Homo sapiens: one gene and its partners. The protein of the gene in region 1 interacts with the protein of each later gene in a biochemical or structural test. Each region holds a gene or a part of one and is shown in the gene's direction. Other genes may lie near its edges.

The links. The genes of interacting proteins can lie anywhere in the genome.
Region 2: the proteins of MPP7 (region 1) and GDA interact in a test that uses a peptide from one of them, tested with the Homo sapiens proteins (one large-scale study listed by IntAct).
Region 3: the proteins of MPP7 (region 1) and RSBN1 interact in a test that uses a peptide from one of them, tested with the Homo sapiens proteins (one large-scale study listed by IntAct).
Region 4: the proteins of MPP7 (region 1) and SLC45A4 interact in a test that uses a peptide from one of them, tested with the Homo sapiens proteins (one large-scale study listed by IntAct).

The regions. Positions count from the first base shown.
Region 1 is NC_000010.11:28,292,160-28,297,434, reverse strand, and holds part of MPP7 (MAGUK p55 subfamily member 7), read left to right. Parts: intron 1-5,275. UniProt on the Homo sapiens protein: Acts as an important adapter that promotes epithelial cell polarity and tight junction formation via its interaction with DLG1. Involved in the assembly of protein complexes at sites of cell-cell contact.
Region 2 is NC_000009.12:72,155,053-72,159,439, forward strand, and holds part of GDA (guanine deaminase), read left to right. Parts: intron 1-3,767; exon of another isoform or gene 3,768-3,961; intron 3,962-4,387. UniProt on the Homo sapiens protein: Catalyzes the hydrolytic deamination of guanine, producing xanthine and ammonia.
Region 3 is NC_000001.11:113,802,477-113,806,863, reverse strand, and holds part of RSBN1 (lysine-specific demethylase 9), read left to right. Parts: intron 1-4,387. UniProt on the Homo sapiens protein: Histone demethylase that specifically demethylates dimethylated 'Lys-20' of histone H4 (H4K20me2), thereby modulating chromosome architecture.
Region 4 is NC_000008.11:141,207,289-141,211,675, reverse strand, and holds part of SLC45A4 (solute carrier family 45 member 4), read left to right. Parts: coding exon 1-104; coding exon of another isoform or gene 105-234; 3' UTR 235-4,387. UniProt on the Homo sapiens protein: Proton-associated sucrose transporter. May be able to transport also glucose and fructose.

The DNA.
Region 1 (5,275 bases):
GAGCCACAGCGCCCGGCCTTATTGTTTTCTTATTTTAAGAAATTGCCACAGCCATCCATCTTTCAGCAGCCAGCACCTTGTTCAGTCAGCAGCCATCAACATCAAGGCAAAATCCTCCACCAGCAAAAAGATTATGACTCCCTGAAGGCTCGGATGATCACTAGCATTTTAAAAAAATTATAAAGCATTTTAAAATTAAGAGCTAATGCTATTGCCAACATAATAGACTACAGTATACTGTAAATATAACTTCTATATGCACTTGGAAAGCAGAAACATTTCTGTTACCTTATTGCAGTGTTAGTTTTACTAAGGTGGTCTGGAATGGAACATGTGATATCTTCAAGGTATGCCTACGATTTCAGAAATAACCTCTCCTATTGAACCCTCTGATTCTTCCTGTGTTCAGAAACCCAGACCAAAGTGTAGATTTATTGGTCTTTATTTATGAGTAGTTGAATTTTTTTAATGTCTTGTGTTTTGTTTAAATTTTATGTAAACTGCGGCTTAGCTCTTTCAGCATAGTCTTATGCTTTGCTTTCTTAGATTACTGAGTCTTTAAAAGAACTGGTAAAGTGCATATGTGTGGAAAGATTATTTGCTACCTACTATGAACAGATACTTAAGTAAAAAAACAAAAACAAAAAAACCCAAGATGTTTTTTCCAGGCATATAAATGTTTTTTTCTTGAAGAGGCATTTAGTCTTTCTATTTACTAGAACATTATCAGCTTGCTTTACTTATGAAAGAGAGGAGACCATTCTTTTCTCTGTGAATTTAGGAGCTATTTGTCAGGCTTGTTTATTACTGATTGGGTTGCTTGTTACTGATTGTTAGAGAAGGGAGATGAAAATACATAGCAGTTGCGATATCCATTTTGGGTATAGAACTGGCAATGTTAGTGGAGATTAAAGACTAGCTGGTACGACTGCATTTTGCAAGATATTTTGAAGACAACTTTGGACTTTGAAAATGCAGGATAGGAATCTAAGTGAGAAAGTCTTTCAGTGGTTGGGGTGTGTGTGTGTTCACTTCAGTTGCACTGAACTGTGGGTGGGGAGGAGAGCAATAGTAAATTGTTTCTTACCAGAACACTGCCAGTTCTTAGGGGATTTGGTGGAGATTTGGGAGAGAGAAAATAAATAGGATTCAGCCCTTCTAGGAAGGTCATTCTTGGCAGTGCCTTCAGCCCTTAGGAGAGCGTGGGCATGGAAAAGGTGGGTGGTTGTAAGTAGCCAGGCAGATTAAAAGGCTGCTTCCTAGAGTTTTCTTTACCTTTGATGACCTTAATCAGGTCATTAAGCATTTTAAGACAGGTTTATAGCTCTCCTGTGGTCCAAGCTTGGACTAAGTACTCCTTAATCTTCAATTTTATGTTTTAAATTTTTGGAATAAGTAGAAACCTGAAATTTATAAAATTAATGACTTGAGTATGCGAGTGAATAGCTTCAGAGAGTTATTTGGCTTATGGAAGATTTCAGATTATGGTAGGTGCTTGAATATACTTATTTCTCATACTCTTTCTTCCATCCCTTTAACAACAAAAAAAGGCCTTATTAGAAATAGGCAAACTTGAATACACATAGAGCTGTACTGCTCAAATTGAGTACTTGAGTTGGGGAGAAAAGTCTCCCGGTCTAGATATAGCTTTGAAAAGAGAAGGATCAGGTAGGATGCCGTACACGGCAGGTGTGTGCAGGGACAGGGATAACGTTAACCCCTTTTGCTGTGAATATTGTCAGAGGGTCTGATGTGTAATTAGGCATTCCTTAGCTTCACTCCTGATAAAAACACACTCTTGGACAGTTTCTCTGTATGTGCACTTAAAGCAGTTTGAATCTTGTTAATCAAATATTTCTCGGGGTTGTAACTTCTTTTTTTGGCATTGGGAAGACTGTTGAAGTCATGTTGTAAAAATTTGGAGTTGAGCCTGGGATCAAAATTTGGAGTTATGGCCCAAGATTTATCAAGCTTCTGCTGATATTCAAAATATTGTTTTTTTCTCTTCCTATTATGGCTTCTGATTACTTCTGAAGAGTGAGTTCAGACCTCTGTGCTCTAACGCTCATCAGAGTACCCTTTTTGTACATAGTATAATCAGGATAGAGATTAGGCATTTTGTCAAGTTTGGGAGAAAGAAGTTGAGCAGTGAGGAAATGAACTAACACTGTTTTCGTTTCTTCATAGTCATTTTAAATAGGATACAAATTTTATATTTTAGAAGTTTCAAAATGGTAGTAATTTCACCTTTCACATTATGCTTAGTATGAAAAATTTCTACCAGTGGTTCTCAAACTTTAGCATACCTTGGGATCACACGGAGGGCTTGTGAAACCTTAGGCAGCTGCCTTCCAGCCCCAGAATTTCTGATCAGTCGGTCTGGGAGGGGAGGTCCTGGCGATTTGCATTTCTAATAAGTTCTAAGGCCATGTGCTACAGCCACTGCAGGGGCCAGCCACTCTAGGGGGAAACGTAAGTGTAGTGGTTAACACTTTGAAAGACCTGGGTTTGAATCTCTGCTCTGCTGCTTTCTAGTACTTTGACTTTAGGCAAGTTTCTTAACCTCTGTTGTTCCGTCTCTAAAGTGGAAATAATATAGTATTTTGTTGTGAATGTAAGTGGGCTCCAATGTGTAGAAGCTCAGGGAACAGGGCCTTGCAGATTGCAAGCATGCAATAAATGTTTTCTTTTATCCATAAAAACAGTACGTATATAAAATAAATAGGATCCTGCATCTTATACAATTGAAGCAAAGACAGAAAATTTAATACTTAACCTCATTTCCTGGCACTGTGCTGGGGAAAAAATATGATTACTCAATTACTTTTTAAGGAGTGAAGGAAAAGTTTGTGGATCCTAGTAATTTTCCAGAAACATTTTTTAGAGGCATAGCACATTCATATCGATGCTGCCTCCTCCCTCTTCCCCTTCAAAAAGTTTGCATTCTTTAATCACCGTATGTTGGACTCTCACAATAACCCTTATAGTTTACATTTTATATAACAGGTATTTTGAAGGTTGCTTCTGGGAGCTGAATGACAGGAAGTACCTGAAAGTCATCTTTAGAACACACTGTCGCCTGTACTATGACAACTTTGTATTTGATGACCTTGAACGCAGTTCTTCTCGAGACGGAGTCTTGCTCTGTCCCCCAGGCTGGAGTGCAGTGGTGTGATCTCAGCTCACTGCAGGTTCCACCTCCCGGCTTCACGCCATTCTCCTGCCTCAGCCTCCAGTTTAAAACATATTTAAACTGGACTACAGGCACCCGGCTAATTTTTTTGTATTTTTAGTAGAGACAGGGTTTCACTGTGTTAGCCAGGATTGTCTGGATCTCCTGATCTCATGATCCGCCCGCCTCGGCCTCCCAAAGTGCTGGTATTACAGGCGTGAGCCACCACGCCCAGCCCTTGAACGCAATTCTTTGGGATCTCATCTCTCGGCTTGCTGAATGCCTGGTTCATTTTCTTTCTGCAGACCTGCGGGATCTCACCTCTGGCTATCCTTTCATTAGTGAAACCCTCTTTCCATCACTTTCTGTCACTATCACTGTCTTACTTGTTAGCTGTTAACACTCTCTTATCATTATCTTATTTGTTTCCTTTTTATTGTTTCCTTCACTAGGACATAAACCCTATGAGGGTAAGGGCTTGATCTTTTGCTACTCGGTCGCTAGGATGGGATGCAGTTCCTGGTATGTAGAGACTGAATACCTGCTGGTTGGGTGAAGGGACCTGTGACGCGGAGCTGCCCCGCTCCGCTCCCTCCCCAGCTCAGGGGCTCGGACTGGAGTTAGCACTCACTTCATGGCACACTGTCATGATTGGTCCGTGTAGAGTCTCCCACCTTATTTTATTGTATCTTTCCCCTTCATCACCTATCCCCATTCATGTTCTTCCTTGCCCCCAGGGGACCCTCTCTCTGGCATATGCATAATTCCCTTAAGTACGACCAGATTGTTATCTCATTGACACTTTCACCAGCTGTTGCTCCCTGCATTCTTGCTGGCATGTGGCATTTTCTGACCTTATAATTTTTTCCAATCTGATGCAACAGATGGAGCAATCCAGCACAAAGTGATATGTTATTGTTCTTATTTGCAGCTATCTGATTACTAATGCAGTGGAATATCCTATCGTATACTGTGTGTGTTTTTCCTCGGTTGAGTTCGCCATTTATATATCCTTTGCCTCTTTTTCTGTTAGCTTTTCATATCTGTTTCCCATTTTTCTGCCCTAATTTATAGCAGTTTTCTTCTTTTTTCAGTCTCTCGTTGGATTTTAAATGGTATACGCATCTTTTGTTTTTCACCTGTCAGATTTTTTCTTTGAAATCTTTCATTAAACGGAATCTTTAATTTTGTTATGATCCAACCTTTTTTTTTTTTTTTTAACCTTCTGGGTCTTGTGTAGGAAATATTTCTCCATTCCTAGTTAACAAAGTTATGTTTCTGTATTTTCTTCTATGGCAAACGAATTTTCCCAAATCTCATTTACTAAATAACCTAGTGGTTTGTGATGCTACCTGTATCATATGTCAAGATCCACACACTCGTATATATGCACACAGAGACACAGACACACACATTCTCTCTCTCTCACCTTTTTAGGCTCCCTGCTCTGTTCTGATCAATTTGTCTGTTTCTGTTCTAATTTCACAGTGGATTTTGCTTTTATTTTTATTGCTACAACTTGTTTATATATTTTGATATCTAGAAGAATGACTCCCTCCTGTGTTATTTTAAAAACATATTTAAACTGGTAGTTTTCAACCATGGCTTTATATTAGAATTTGCTAGGTAGCTTTTAAAAAAATATGTCCCATTGACCACAGATGAACTGAATTATAATCTCTAGAGAGTGGAGTCTAGCAATTGTATTTTTTAAAATCTCCTCTGGTGACACTGATCTATATCCCGAGTGGAAACCACTTATCAGTGGTATTAATGTTTTATTCAATGGAGGTCAGATTTTTTTTTTTTTTCCGTAATGATCTTGTCTTCTTTGTTACAGTAAGAGACCCTAGTTCAGCTTCTGTTTCTACTGTGAATGCCATTTTTTCTTCTGTTGTATTTTCTATTGTTTATTTCCCCTGGTGTAGGGGAATCCTACATATATCGACAACTATGCATCACTTAACAGGGATATGTTCTGAGAAATGTGTCATTAGGTGATTTCGTCATTGTGTGAACATCGCAGACTGCACTTACACAAATGTAGATAACACAGCCTACTACACACCTAGGTTATATGGTATAGCCCGTTGCTCCTAGGCT
Region 2 (4,387 bases), on another chromosome or scaffold:
AACTTGCGATGTGAACAATGAGAAGTTAAGTAGGTATATTAGTCAATTTTCACATTGGTGACAAAAACAACCTGAGACTGGGAAGAAAAAGAGGTTTAATTGGACTTACAGTTCCACATGACTGGGGAGCCTCAGAATCATGGCAGGAGGTGAAAGACACTTCTTACATGGCGGCAGCAAGAGAGAATGAGGAAGATGAAAAAGCGGAAACTCCTGATAAACCCATCAGATCTCGTGAGACTTATTCACTACCATGAGAACAGTATGGGGGAAACTGCCCCCATGATTCAAGTTATCGCCCACTGGGTTCCTCCCACAACATGTGGGAATTAGGGGAGTACAATTCAAGATGAGATTTGGATGGAGGCACATCCAAACCATACCAATAGGTAAGGTGGACAGCATTGGAAGTAAAGAAGAGCCTTCTAGGTTGAGAGAACTGCCTGTGACTGCCTGTGCAAAGGTCCTGGGGTAGGAAGGAATGAAACAGTCAAGGTAGTCAGAGTCCAAAGGTTGAGGAGAAGGCTAACACAGGATAAGGCAGGACAGGTAGGCAGGGCTATGTTATGGAGGGCATCGGGGATGGTGGGATTGTGTCATGATTATATTTTGTGGTTATAAAGGTCTAACTTCAGGATAAATGCATTGAAGAGAAGTTGAGTGCAGGCAAGGAGGTCAGATAGGAGCCTGTTGCAGTATTTAGGTAAAATGGAATGTGGTTTAGATGAGAGAGGCAGTGTAGTTATCAACTGAGATATGAACTCCTAAGAGTACCTCTATCACTTATTACCTATGTGAATTTGATCAAGTTCCTTACCATTTGTATCTCCAAATTTCTTTATGCATAAAATAATTACTATGGTCTACCTAATAGGGTTGTTGAAAGGATAAAATGGATTAGTAAGTGTAAAATATATAGAATAATGCCTGGCATGTAGTACATGTCCATTAGACTTCAGCGGTTATTGTCAGTAATGCAGATGGAGAGGTGGATAGAATCAGTAGCTATTTAGATCAAGTTGACTGGATTTGATGATAGCTTACATATGTAAGGTTGGAAGGTAAGTGCATCAAGAGTGATCGCAAAATGTATGTAAATGTGTGTAAATAGTACAGTGGGGCACAAGTTGACCAGTGATAGGAAAAGCTTCTTGAAGGAAGTAGTAGCTGAATTGGACCTTTTAGGACTGGAACATGCAAAAGAGGATTATATAGCCCTGGTGAAAAGAGTGACCCAATGTTCTTCAGTTCTGAAGACTGCTGGGAGGAGGAAGAGTTCTTTCTCACCTGAGGCTACTTTACCAGAAGTTCTCTCAGTCTAAATCACAAATCCTAGTGATTGTGTATCATCCTTTCCTCCACTTCCTGCCAAGCTCAGCAACTCAAAATATGCTGTTGGTCCTGAGAAAGGAAACTGGGCTAATCCCTTCCTTCTGAGGCTGCTGAATAGGAGCTTGGCTTTCATCAGAAAGATGCTTTCACTCCCAATTATTACAAGATCATCTTGCAAATTCCCATTTTCTAGAAGGCTGATTGCTTGTTCAGAATGCTCATGGCAAACACTGTTGGTTACCCACTCAGCAGTCATGACCTCTTTTTCCTTATTAACACCTGAATTTGATCAGTCCATGGTAGACTCAGCCTGTGGATACATCATGGTGTAAGCCAGTCATGGTAATCCTATCTCCATTTATCAGATACTTATTCTTCCAGCTTCCTGGTAGCTGAGGGTGACTAGTGATAATATTCTGACATACAGGAAGTTTGCTCAGAAGCTTCTAGGATGTGGGAAGAGAAGCCCTGCCTTTTTTGGATACTCTCATATGAAGAAAAGATACTTGGAACTGCTGCTGCCACCATGTGAGACTGTGAGGAAAAGGTTAAGGGGATTTCAGAGACACCATCCCATTTTCTAACATCACTGAGCAGTTGAACTACCCCTACCTGGAACTGTCTACTATCAGACTTCTAGACTTCCTTTTTTTTTTTTTTTTTTTTTTTTTTGAGATGGAGTTTCACTCTTGTTGCCTAGGCTGGGGTGCAGTGGCGCGATCTTAGCTCACTGCAACATCCGCCTCCTGGGTTCAAGCGATTCTCCTGCCTCAGCCTCCCGAGGAGGTGGGATTACGGGCACTCACCACCATGGCCAGCTAATTTTTTGTATTTTTAGTAGAGATGGGGTTTCGCCATGTTGGGCAGGCTGGTCTTGAACTCCTGACCTCAGGTGATCCACCCACCTTGGCCTCCCAAAGTGTTGGGATTACAGGCGTGAGCCACGGTAGCCAGCCCAGACTTCTTTTGTGAGATATGAAATGTCTTTATTGTCTAAATCTCTGTTAGTTGGGTACTGTTCATTGCAGCCCAATGCACCCTCATTACTACACTGCTTTTCAATGAACAATATTTTACACTTTACAAGAATAACTACCTTCTCCTTCTTCTCCTTACTGGCCTTTCCAGGCACCCATATCAATAGTCAAGCCCAGCCAATTTTCCTCTGGGATTTCTGTGTGCATATTCACTTCCATTGCCCCCATCTACCCTTTAGTGTCTCTGAGCTAAAATATAACAGGAGACCCTTAACTGTTTTCTCTCATTCTAGTATTTCCCCCACATTACTGAAAACTCTTTTCTTGGACCATGGGTAGTATCATGTATCTACTCTTCTATAACCATCTATGGCTCACTATTGCCTCTAAGTTTCAAATGTCCTGGAAGATGTTCTAGGCATGACATTATTTGGCCCCAACCTGTTCTCTAATTCTTTCTGTTGCTTCATTTATCTGTCTGGCAAGTGGGAATAGGATTACCATGACTGATTTACACCATATTGTATCCATGAGCCAAGGGATGTCTATCCATGCAAATTTCTCCCTGTTTTCCAGCACATCATGTCCTTTTATGCCTCCACATTGTTGGCACCAATTTCTTTGCCTGGAATAGTCCTCCTTTTTATATCCCCATTTCCATTTTACTTCTATCAAAATGAAATCTTGCTCTTCCTTTAAGGCCCAGCTCTGATCTTCTCTTTTTCACAAAGGCTTTCACAAAGGCTTTATTCCCAAGTTGAAATAAATTGCCCCTTCCTCTGTTCTTCCATAAAATTTTTCATATATTTCAAATCAGTATTTTACAGGTAGTTAAGAACATGGTTTCTAGAGTCAGATTATGTGAATTCAAATCAAAACTCTGCTACTTACTAGGACAAATTTTCTGACATAGCTGAACCTCAGCATCCTCATTTAAAAATGTGGATTAAGGCTGGGTACAGTGGCCCGCACCTGTAATCCTAGCACTTTGGGAGGCCGAGGTGGGCTCATCACGAGGTCAGGAGATCGAGACCATCCTGGCTAACATGGTGAAACTCCATCTCTACTAAAAATACAAAAAATTAGCTGGGTGTGGTGGCAGGCGCCTATAGTCCCAGCTACTCGGGAGGCTGAGGCAGGAGAATCCCTTGAACCCGGGAGGCAGAGCTTGCAGTGAGCTGAGATCATGCCACTGCACTCCAGCCTGGGCAACAAGAGCGAAACTCCGTCTCCAAAAAAAAAAAAAATGTGGATTAATAGCACCTTGATAGAGTTGTGAGGCAAGTGAGATAGTGTGTTGTTATTATTTTTCTTTCTCTGAAGTAGTTATTCCAATTTGCCTTTGATTATACTTAGCTTTATAGAATGTTCTCACTCACTGAAATGATTTAAAGTTTTTGGAAAAAGAGAGATGAACTGGAGAAAAGGTAACACTTACTAAGTCATACTGTATTTCAGACAGTCTGCCAAATCCCTTACAAATCAACAACCTTGAGACAAGGTAAGGACACCATCATCATCATCATCATCATCATCATCATCATCTCTACTTTACAAATGAGGAAACGGAGGCTCGGAGAGTTACTTGGCTGCAGTCACAGCAAATAAGTGGCAAAGGCAAGACTCAGAGCCATGCCTGTCTGATGTCCAAGGTCCGTGCTCTCCAGGAGTCTCTGCTGTCTTCTGTCATGGAGAGGGCCAAAACTCTATTGTCCTAAGGCCCCTTCAACATTTCATGTTGTTTTAGCACAAAGTAGGTGGTCAGTAAAGTGTGTTGAATGTGATGTGTAATACAAAAACGAGGCAGGCAGATCACAAGCTCAGGAGTTCAAGACCAGCCTGGCCAACATGGTGAAACCCCGTCTCTACTAAAAATACAAAAATTAGCCAGGCATGATGGCAGGTGCCTGTAATCCCAGCTACTCAGGAGGCTGAGGGGGAAGAACTGCTTGAAACCAGGAGGTGGAGGTTGCAGTGAGCCGAAATTGTGCCACTGCACTCCAGCCTGGGTGACAGAGTGAGACTCCGTCTCAAAAAAAGAAAAAGAGAAAAAAAAATGAGTGATAGAACAAACCTTT
Region 3 (4,387 bases), on another chromosome or scaffold:
TGTTTTTTTTTTTTTTTTTTTTTTTGATAGAGGCAGGGTCTCTCTGTGTTGTCCAGGCTGGTCTCAAACTCCTGGGCTTAAGTGATCCTCCCGCCTTGGCCTACCAAAGTGTTGGGATTACAGACAGGAGCCACTGTGCCTGGTCCTTTCTACCTTCTCAGTGGGATACTTCACAGAGCAAAAATTTTAAATTTTGTTGATATCCAATTTACTAAGTTTTTTTTTTTCTTTAATGGATCATGTTTTTGGCATCATATCTAACATACCAAGTCCTAGATCCCAAAGATTTTCTCCTTTGTTTTCTTCTAAAAGTTTTATAATTTTAACTTTTGTATTTTAATCTGTCATCCATTTGAGTTAATTTTGTACAGGTGTGAGGTTTAGGTCGCCATTTTTTTTCTTCTTGCCTAAGGATATCCAGTTGCTCTAGCACCTTTTGTTGAAAAGATTAATCTTCCATTGAATTGCTTTTGCACTTTTTTCAAAAATCAGTACAACCTGTAATGTAACAATGATTTTTTTTTTTTTTTTGAGACAGAGTCTCGCTCTGTGCCAGGCTGGAGTGCAGTGGTGTGATCTCAGCTCAGTGCAACCTCCACCTCCTGGGTTCATGGGAATCTTATGCCTCAGCCTCCTGAGTAGCTGGGATTACAGGCGCCCACCACCACACCCAGCTAATTTTGTATTTTTAGTAGAGATGGGGTTTCACCATGTTGGCCAGACTGGTCTCAAACTCCTGACCTCAGGTGATGTGCCTCCCACAAGTGCTGGGATTACAGGCATGAGCCACTGTGCCTGGCCTAACAATGGTTTTTACAATTTAAAATAGTTGGAACGACCTTGTAGCGCATGGAAATCATACGAAATTTAAACTGTGTCCAGAAATAAAGCTTTATTGGAATATAGCTCTGTTCATTCATATATATTGTCTATGGTAGTTTTTGCACTACAGTAGCAGAATACAGTAATTGAGACAGAGACCATAAGACCTGCAAAGCCTGCTGTTCGGCTCTTTAGAGAAGTTTGCCACCCTTGAGTTCACTTAAGAGACATGTTCCTTCCTGCACAGCAGTTCAACAGTATTTAATCTGAATTCATGTGGAGACTAATTACAAATTATTACAATCTCAGACATTTGGAGTTGTTCATAAACAGTTGAAACAAAAATTTAATCTGTAAATGCTAGGGTAAACTTGTTCATCTTTAAAACAGAAAGAAGTGATTTTCAGAGAGATGAAGTGAAATGCTTAAAATTTTTTAGTTGGTGATAGAGCTGAATACAGAACTCAATTTTTTTCCCTCATGGCCCAGTTGACCTCTCTTTCTGCTATGCACACTGGGGTTGATTATTTAACAGAGATATTTAAATGCTGTTTTTATTTCTTATAGGGAATAAGCTTGAGTGTAACTAAACTGGAGGTTACCTATGTGTTTTGAAATCTTAATTTTTTTCTCTCCCTCTTATTGCTCATAAAAACATAGGACAGGCCGGGCGCGGTGGCTCATGCCTGTATTCCCAGACCAAGGTGGGCAAATCACGAGGTCGGGAGTTTGACACCAGCCTAGTCAACATGGTGAAACCCTGTCTCTACGAAAAATACAAAAAATTAGCTGGGCTACTTGGGAGGCTGAGGCAGGAGAATCACTTGAACCTGGAAGGCGGAGGTTGCACTGAGCTGAGATTGCGCCACTTGCATTCCAGCCTGGTCGACAGAGTCAGACTCCGTTTCAAAAAAAAAAATAGGACAAACATACTTCCTTAAAAATCCATGAAAAGAAGTAATGCTTCTTTTTAATTATTCTTAGTAAATTCATGATTTTAATATGTTGTTAAAAAGGAAAGAAAGGAAGGACAGCCCCCATAGGCTGTCTTCTCCAATGTCATTACATGACCGGATTGCTCATATGTATGCTCTTGTGAGTCATCTTTCTTATCTCATTTTTTTTTTTTTTTTTACTCTTGACCAGTTGCCTAACTGCTATCACCGAGTGTAAGTGTTCCTGAGCCAGATGTTTAATGGAAATTTTCTCTCATGTCAAAAAGCAGGGATTTTAAGTCCAGAAACACTTCTTTTTGATGTTAGCAATGGAGAATTATTGGGATTATAAGGGAATTGAAATAAACAATCTTATTTATCAGAACAACAACTGTAGGGACTAATATTTTTCCCTGCTCACCCTGAGAGAGGCAAAAACACCTTTAAGGGCACGAAAACTTTTGAAATGGCACTAAGTAAGATATTTGTTGAAGTAATACTCCCTTTATTCCAAGCTACCTCAGGTCCATTAATTGTAACCAGATAATCTTAGTTGATCATCTAATGGGAGTGTTGCAGGGAGATGTCTGATAGTGGAGGCGGAAAGGAAGAGAGTGTAGGGTGCAGTATGTTAGAAGAATTTGTTTTGGAGTCAGATAGGTGAGAAGTTTGAATCTTGGCTGTTGTGTACTAGCTTTGTGACCTAATATAAATTACATATCTTGTTTCAGGCTGTTTCTTTCTCCGTACTTCATTGGTTTGAGGATTAAAATAAAATAACATATATGGTCCCTATTAGACATTTGGCAAATACGTTTTCTTTCCTCTTTCAGAGATCTTTCTTATGTGTTTCTCTTGATAATCAAGATGATAAGAGACTTATTGTGTGTCACATATTGTGATGAGGGCCTTATAGTCATTGTCTCATTTAATTCTTAAAATAACTCTGTGAGATAGACTCTAGAATTAATAACTTTTTTTTTTTTCTGAGACGGGGTTGCCCAGGCTGGAGTGTAGTGAAGTGATTATAGCTCACTGTAACCTCGAACTCCTGGGCTCAAGCGATCCTCCCACCTCAGCCTGTAGCTAAGCCTAGCTCACTCCTGCAGCTAGGACTACAGGCATGCACCGCCAAGCCCAGCTAACTTTTTTTTTTTTTTTTTTTTTGTAAAAATGGGGTCCTGCTGTGTTGCTCAGGCTGGTCTTGAATTCCTGGACTCTAGCAGTCTTCCTGCCTCAGTCTCCCAAAGTGCTGGGATTACAGGCATGAGGCACTGTACCTGGCCTATTATAACATTTTAAGATGAGAAAATTTAGATTTAAAGAGATTTATGAGCTTACCCAGAGACCTTAGTAAACAATAGAGCTGGGACATTGACTTAGGTCTATCTAACAGTACAGCACCTGTTCTTATCTTAAATAGTACACTCTACTGCCTCTAGAATTCAACTGTTTTTGGCAATAATAGTAGTTATGATGTATTGAGTATTTATTATGTTCTAGGACTATTATAAGTACTTCACATGCGTTTTTCATTTACTCTGCACACTAATTTTATAATGAGATACTGTTCTTTCCTCCGGTTTTACCAATGAGAAGCAGTGCAAAGAATTAACTTGCAAAAAGATATGCTATCTCATTCATTATTGTTGGGAATACAAAATGATACAGCCACTTTGGAAGACAGTTTGGCAGTTTCTTAACAAAACTAAACATACTATACGATCCAGCAGTCATACTCTTTGATATTTACCCCGAGGAGCTGAAAATTTGTGTCCACACAAAAACCTGTAGATAGGTGTTCATAATAGGTTTATTCATAGTTACCAAAACTTGGAAGCAATCAAAATGTCCTTCAGTAGGTAAATGGATAAACTGTGGTACATCCAGACAGTAGAATATTATTCAGTGCTAAAAAGAAATGAGCTATCAAGCCATAAAAAGACATGGAGGAACCTTAAATGCATATTACCAAGTGGAAGAAGCCATCCTGAAAAGGCTGCACATTTTATGATTCCAATTATATGACACTCTGGAAAAGGCAAAACTATCAAGAAAGTTAAAAGATCAGTGGTTGCTAGGGGTTTTAGAGAGGGTTGCATGAATAGGCAGAGCACAGAGCATTTTATAGGACAGTGAAACTACTCTTTATGCAACTTAATTAATGGTGGATACATGTCATACATTTATCCAAACCCTCAGAATGTACAACAAGAGTGAACCTGAATGTAAACCATGGACTGCGGGCAGGCGAATAATGATGCATCAATGTAGACTTATCAGTTGTAACAAGTATTCCACTCTGGCTGGGGGTGATGATAATCAGGGAGACAGACTATGCATTTGTGGGAGCCAGGTGTGGTTATAGTTCTAGGAACCTGAAACTGCTCTAAAAAAAAAAAAGTAAAGGCTTAGGGAAAAAAAAGTTCTAGAAAGTATACTTCTAGAAAGTATACTAGAAAGTTATAGAACAGGGATTTAAACCTAGACAGCGCTCTTAAAACACCATAATATAGAGAGATGGTGGGTAAAGTAAGGCAGTGTTAAAAACATACAATGATTCACAAATGTTTGGCTTTCAAAATGAGTAGTTTTTTGTTTTTCCTTTTTAGTCAGGTATTTATATAGAA
Region 4 (4,387 bases), on another chromosome or scaffold:
GTCAGATCTCGTCACATTGGCTGGTGCCGCAGCTGTTGGAGAGTATTTTTCTTTATGATTATTTTAGAAAAAAAATTTTCTTTTCCACAATGTGGTTCTCTTAGAAGAATGACGTATCTTCTTTTCCTCAGCGAGTTGGACACATTGTGCCCAGGGCAGCCCTGTCCTTGGGCAGCGACCGCACACCAAAGCTGGGAGGAGGCTGGTCCGGGGGGCCTGGGCAGAAGACAGTGATTTGCAGGGGTGGCTCCCAGACACCCTGCCCAGGGATGGGCTGGGCACCACCTGGGGGCGGAGCGTGAGCTCCAGACGAGCTCCTGCGTGCGCGTGTGAGTGTGTCTGCGCCCAGCCATGTGACCCCGCTCGTCCCGTCTGAAGGACTCTCCTAGGAGGCCAGGTTGCCCCTCCAGACCGCTCCCAACGTCAGGGGGAAGGAAACGTTGACTTTCACTGCACTTTGATTCGTCTCTAAACCATTTGCTGGGGATTCCTGAGAGCAGAGCTCCCAGCGGGCCCTGCCTCCCAAGTCCCGCCGCAAGGCTACCTCGGGTGTGTGGATGTGCGAGGGCCTCCCCCGCTTGCGAAGGGGACATGCGTGCTGGAACCTGTCGGAACTCCATGCCTTCCTCGCCTGCTCACCTGCTCGACGCTGGAATCGGGACAGGTGCAAAGGGACGCAGACGTCTGGGACAGCTAAGGCCCGTGTCACCGGAGGGCTCCGCACAGTCGTTCTGGTTTCAACGAATAAGCAAAACTCGGGCAAGTACTGCAGCTATTTGGAAATGTTTTCCAAACCACAGTCTCTTTAGAACTAAGCCTATTTGAAACGGTCGGTGTAGGCTTACTGAGATCAGGAGACAGGGAGGCCCCGCACATCACACAGATAAAGTCAGACAATTGTAATTAATACTTTTGCTGCCTCAAGTTGTTTTTTAAATAAAGTACTTTGAAATGCATGAGAATCATGCTGCAATATGATCATTCTAGAGCAAATATATATATACACGTATATATATTTCAAGATGAAACTAAAGCAGTTTTTAAATAAATTACTTGAATTTTCTGTGTATTTAAAGGAACGACTGTTTAATGTACTTGATGGGCCTCTGGTCTTGCCGTGTCTCCTGCCGCTGGTGGCACTTTGTAGATTGTGTGTTTGTGTCCGGGTGGCAGTTGGGTACCTGCTCACGCACGGTGTGTCTGCCAGGCCACGGTGTCCCAGGATCGCAGAGGGCTGACTTTCAAGACTTCAAGAACATTTTCTGGATGTGTGGAAACTTGAGAATGGCCTTGTGAATCTCGTGCTTGGACAGGGCAAGTCCGACTACTGAAAGTGCTGCCAGCTTTGCTGCGAGCCCTCCGGCCAGCGGGAGCCCCGTGGGCTGGGCACTGTGGCCCTTCTTCTCTGGGGGACGGCACCCCTGGCTTCCTCACCTCGGCCGGGCGTCCGTGGCAGCTCACTCTATGCAACTTGATCCTCTAGCGGCTTTAAGACTGTAGATCCCCTCTCTGAGACCTGGCTGTACTTGTCAGGATCTCGAGGCGCAGCTCCCGTCTTAGCTGGTTTCTCCGGCTTCTCGTCCTGACGACTATAAAACAGTTGGAGGCAAGAAAGCAGCGGATGTGGGGTGGCAGTGGCCTGACCCGAATCAAGATCCGACCCAAACCACACCAAATGTGGGTTCATCTGGGGGCCACCCCTTGCCTGAGGCTTCCCACCCTCATCTGAAGGCCCAGGGGCCGGATCCAGGGCTCACCAAAGCCGATTCCTCGCCAGCTGGGAGTGCAGAAGTCTCAGGGCCTGGCTGCGACTTGATTTTTAGGAGGAAGAGGGGCTTCGCAACCCCCCTCTGAATAGTGTGTTAACCCTTGAGATCCCAGCCTCGACTAATCTGAAGTAAGGACAACAAAGGCCATTCAGTGCCCTCCACATGGCCTTGCCACAGTCACTGTCAGGGTATGAACGTGCCGGAAGCCAGTGCCAGCCAGGGACAGGCGTGACTGTTGTGTGCTCCTCGGTGACAGGAGTCGGTGGCTGCACACTTTGTAGACTCGTCAAGCTGTCAGCACTTCAGGTGTTTGCAAGCAAAGCCCTTCTTAGTGTGCAGGTCAGTGTGCAGAGCCCAAATGAGGGGACCGCAGGGGCTGGGGTCCAGGGTCAGTAGAGTCGGTTTCTGGAGCTGCCTTCCTGGGAGGCAGGTGTGGGTGACCGGGGCTCTGGCGGTGCGTGTGGGCCCGGCCTGGCCACAGCGGGGACCAGGTCACGACATCTTTGGCCTCAACCCCTCCCCTGCACTGAGATTATTTCCAGATTGCACTCACTTGAAACCGTCCGTGTCGTCACCTTGTGTCTTAAGGGAAGCCGAGAAGAAGGGCAGACGGGCAGGCTGTCTTGTCTGCAAAGCGCCATTGCGCCCGCAGCTTGTGTGGGTCAGGCTGCAGCTCGGGTGTCTGTGGCTTCTAACCTTGTACCTCAGACGGATGCAGTAACAAGGCGGGGCTGGGGACGCCGGTCAGTGTCAAAGGGGAGGTGCTCTGGCTGATAGCCTTGCCCGAGAGGGACGAGGAGGCCGTGCGGGTGCCCCCTGGGGAAGCTGGCCAGCCATCCAGTGCTGAGGACGCAGCTGGAGTTGGGCTCGTGGCACCCTTGGGGTGTGGGCTGTGCAGGCTGGTGGCCTGGGTGCCTCTGCACACTGAGTGGAGTGTCAGGCAGGGTGTGTCGGTTGGTCGAGTCTTGTGTAATGTGCGCAGACCAGTTACCAAACTAGGATAATGTTGGTCTCATTTGTGGTGGTTTTGTTCCCTATACAAGTCAGCTAAGTAAAGACTCTTTTAACGAGCTTCCCCTTAACACATGGCAGAAGTTTCCAGGTGCAGGAATGCGAGCTGGCGGGAAGGGGCAGAGGCCGTGAGCTCTCAGCTGGGCCGGCCTGCCTGTGTCCCCTTTCCTGGGTCTGTCGGCAGACTGGCATCATGACGTTCCCTGGTGGCTGAAGAGCTAGCTTTGGAGTGTTGTTTTTCTCACTCTCAGGCAGGGGCCTTAGCTGGAATCCTCCAACCTGCCACTGAACACGTCAGTGCTGTGTGCTGCCTCTTGGACACCTGCCCTTGAAAGCCTCAGGCCCCTGGGAGAAGCACTCTGTCCAGTCCTGTCCCCGGGGGGGAGGCAGGGCCACTGAGCCCTCCTCAGATGGTTAGTGGCTTCCAACAGCCATCAGGAGTGTTTCTTGAATGCCCCAGGTGTGGAGGACTTGGTCTGTGACCACCTAGAACCCCAGAGCTGAACAGGAAGCCGTCCCTGCAGCAACAAGAGGGCTGGAAGGGGGAGCTGCAGGCCACCCTCGGCTCTCCCACTGCTGGGGCGGTGATGTTCGGGTGACATGTTTGAAAAATACTCTTAAAGATACCAACTGTTCCCTTATATGGCTAATGGTTTGTGCAGCCACCAGCGATGGCGGCCCCTATTAGAGACCAGGTTTGTTAAAACACCAAATATTGCTGTCCACACTAGACATTAACCGGCTTCAGAAAAGATGGACACCTTTTCCCACGCTGTTTCGCTTCTTAACTTTGGTCCAGCTTTAGCCACCACACAGCGTGTGAGGGACTGCTGCTGCGGAGTCAGCCTCGTTTGTCCCTCCGCCTCCCACCAGCACGCGCCGCTTCTGAGAGACACCAGCTCCCTGCCTCCAAGCCTGGTGCCACAGGCCTGTCGTGAGGGACCCCTGCTTCCGAGAGCTCCTGGGGGGGTTCTGCCCTTCACCACCTGGGAGAGGTGTCAGTTCAGTTCCGAGTTGAACAAGGCCCGTGCACACAGCATGTTGGGGGCCCAGCCCAAAGTTCTTGTCACCTCCTCATGCAAAGCCAGCCATCACCCTCCGGCCAGAGCTCAAGGTGGCCCCTTGGCCAGCCCCTCCTTGGGTCCTCCAGGAGGACTGAGCACCCCTCCTAGCGGCATCCCTTGCCCTCCACAGTGCTGCCAGGGGCACGTCGCTCTGTGCCGTGGACTGAGACCATCCCCTGGTGACAGAATGACCCGTTTGTTGGAAATGCCTCGTTGCCAGAGAAACTCCCCAGGCATCTCGGAACGAAACTATTTAGTTCCATTGTGAACTGGCCACGGGACAGCTTTTTATCAACTTATTAAGTTGGAGCACTGTAATCGCGCTTGCTGAGTTAGCAGTGGTGGTAAGCGTGTGTTAAACACATAATGTTACGTTTTAGGAGAGAGAGGTCGTAAGGAAGTGTCGTGTCGCTCATGACTCTCTTCTATTAGTTGGGTAACAGTGGCCTCATGTTTGTGTCTGTGTGTACACAGAGCCCTTAGGTTCTGCTCTGTTTCTTTGCCAGGTGAATGTTTGTGGCATGCGCTGCTGTCCGCGCCCCT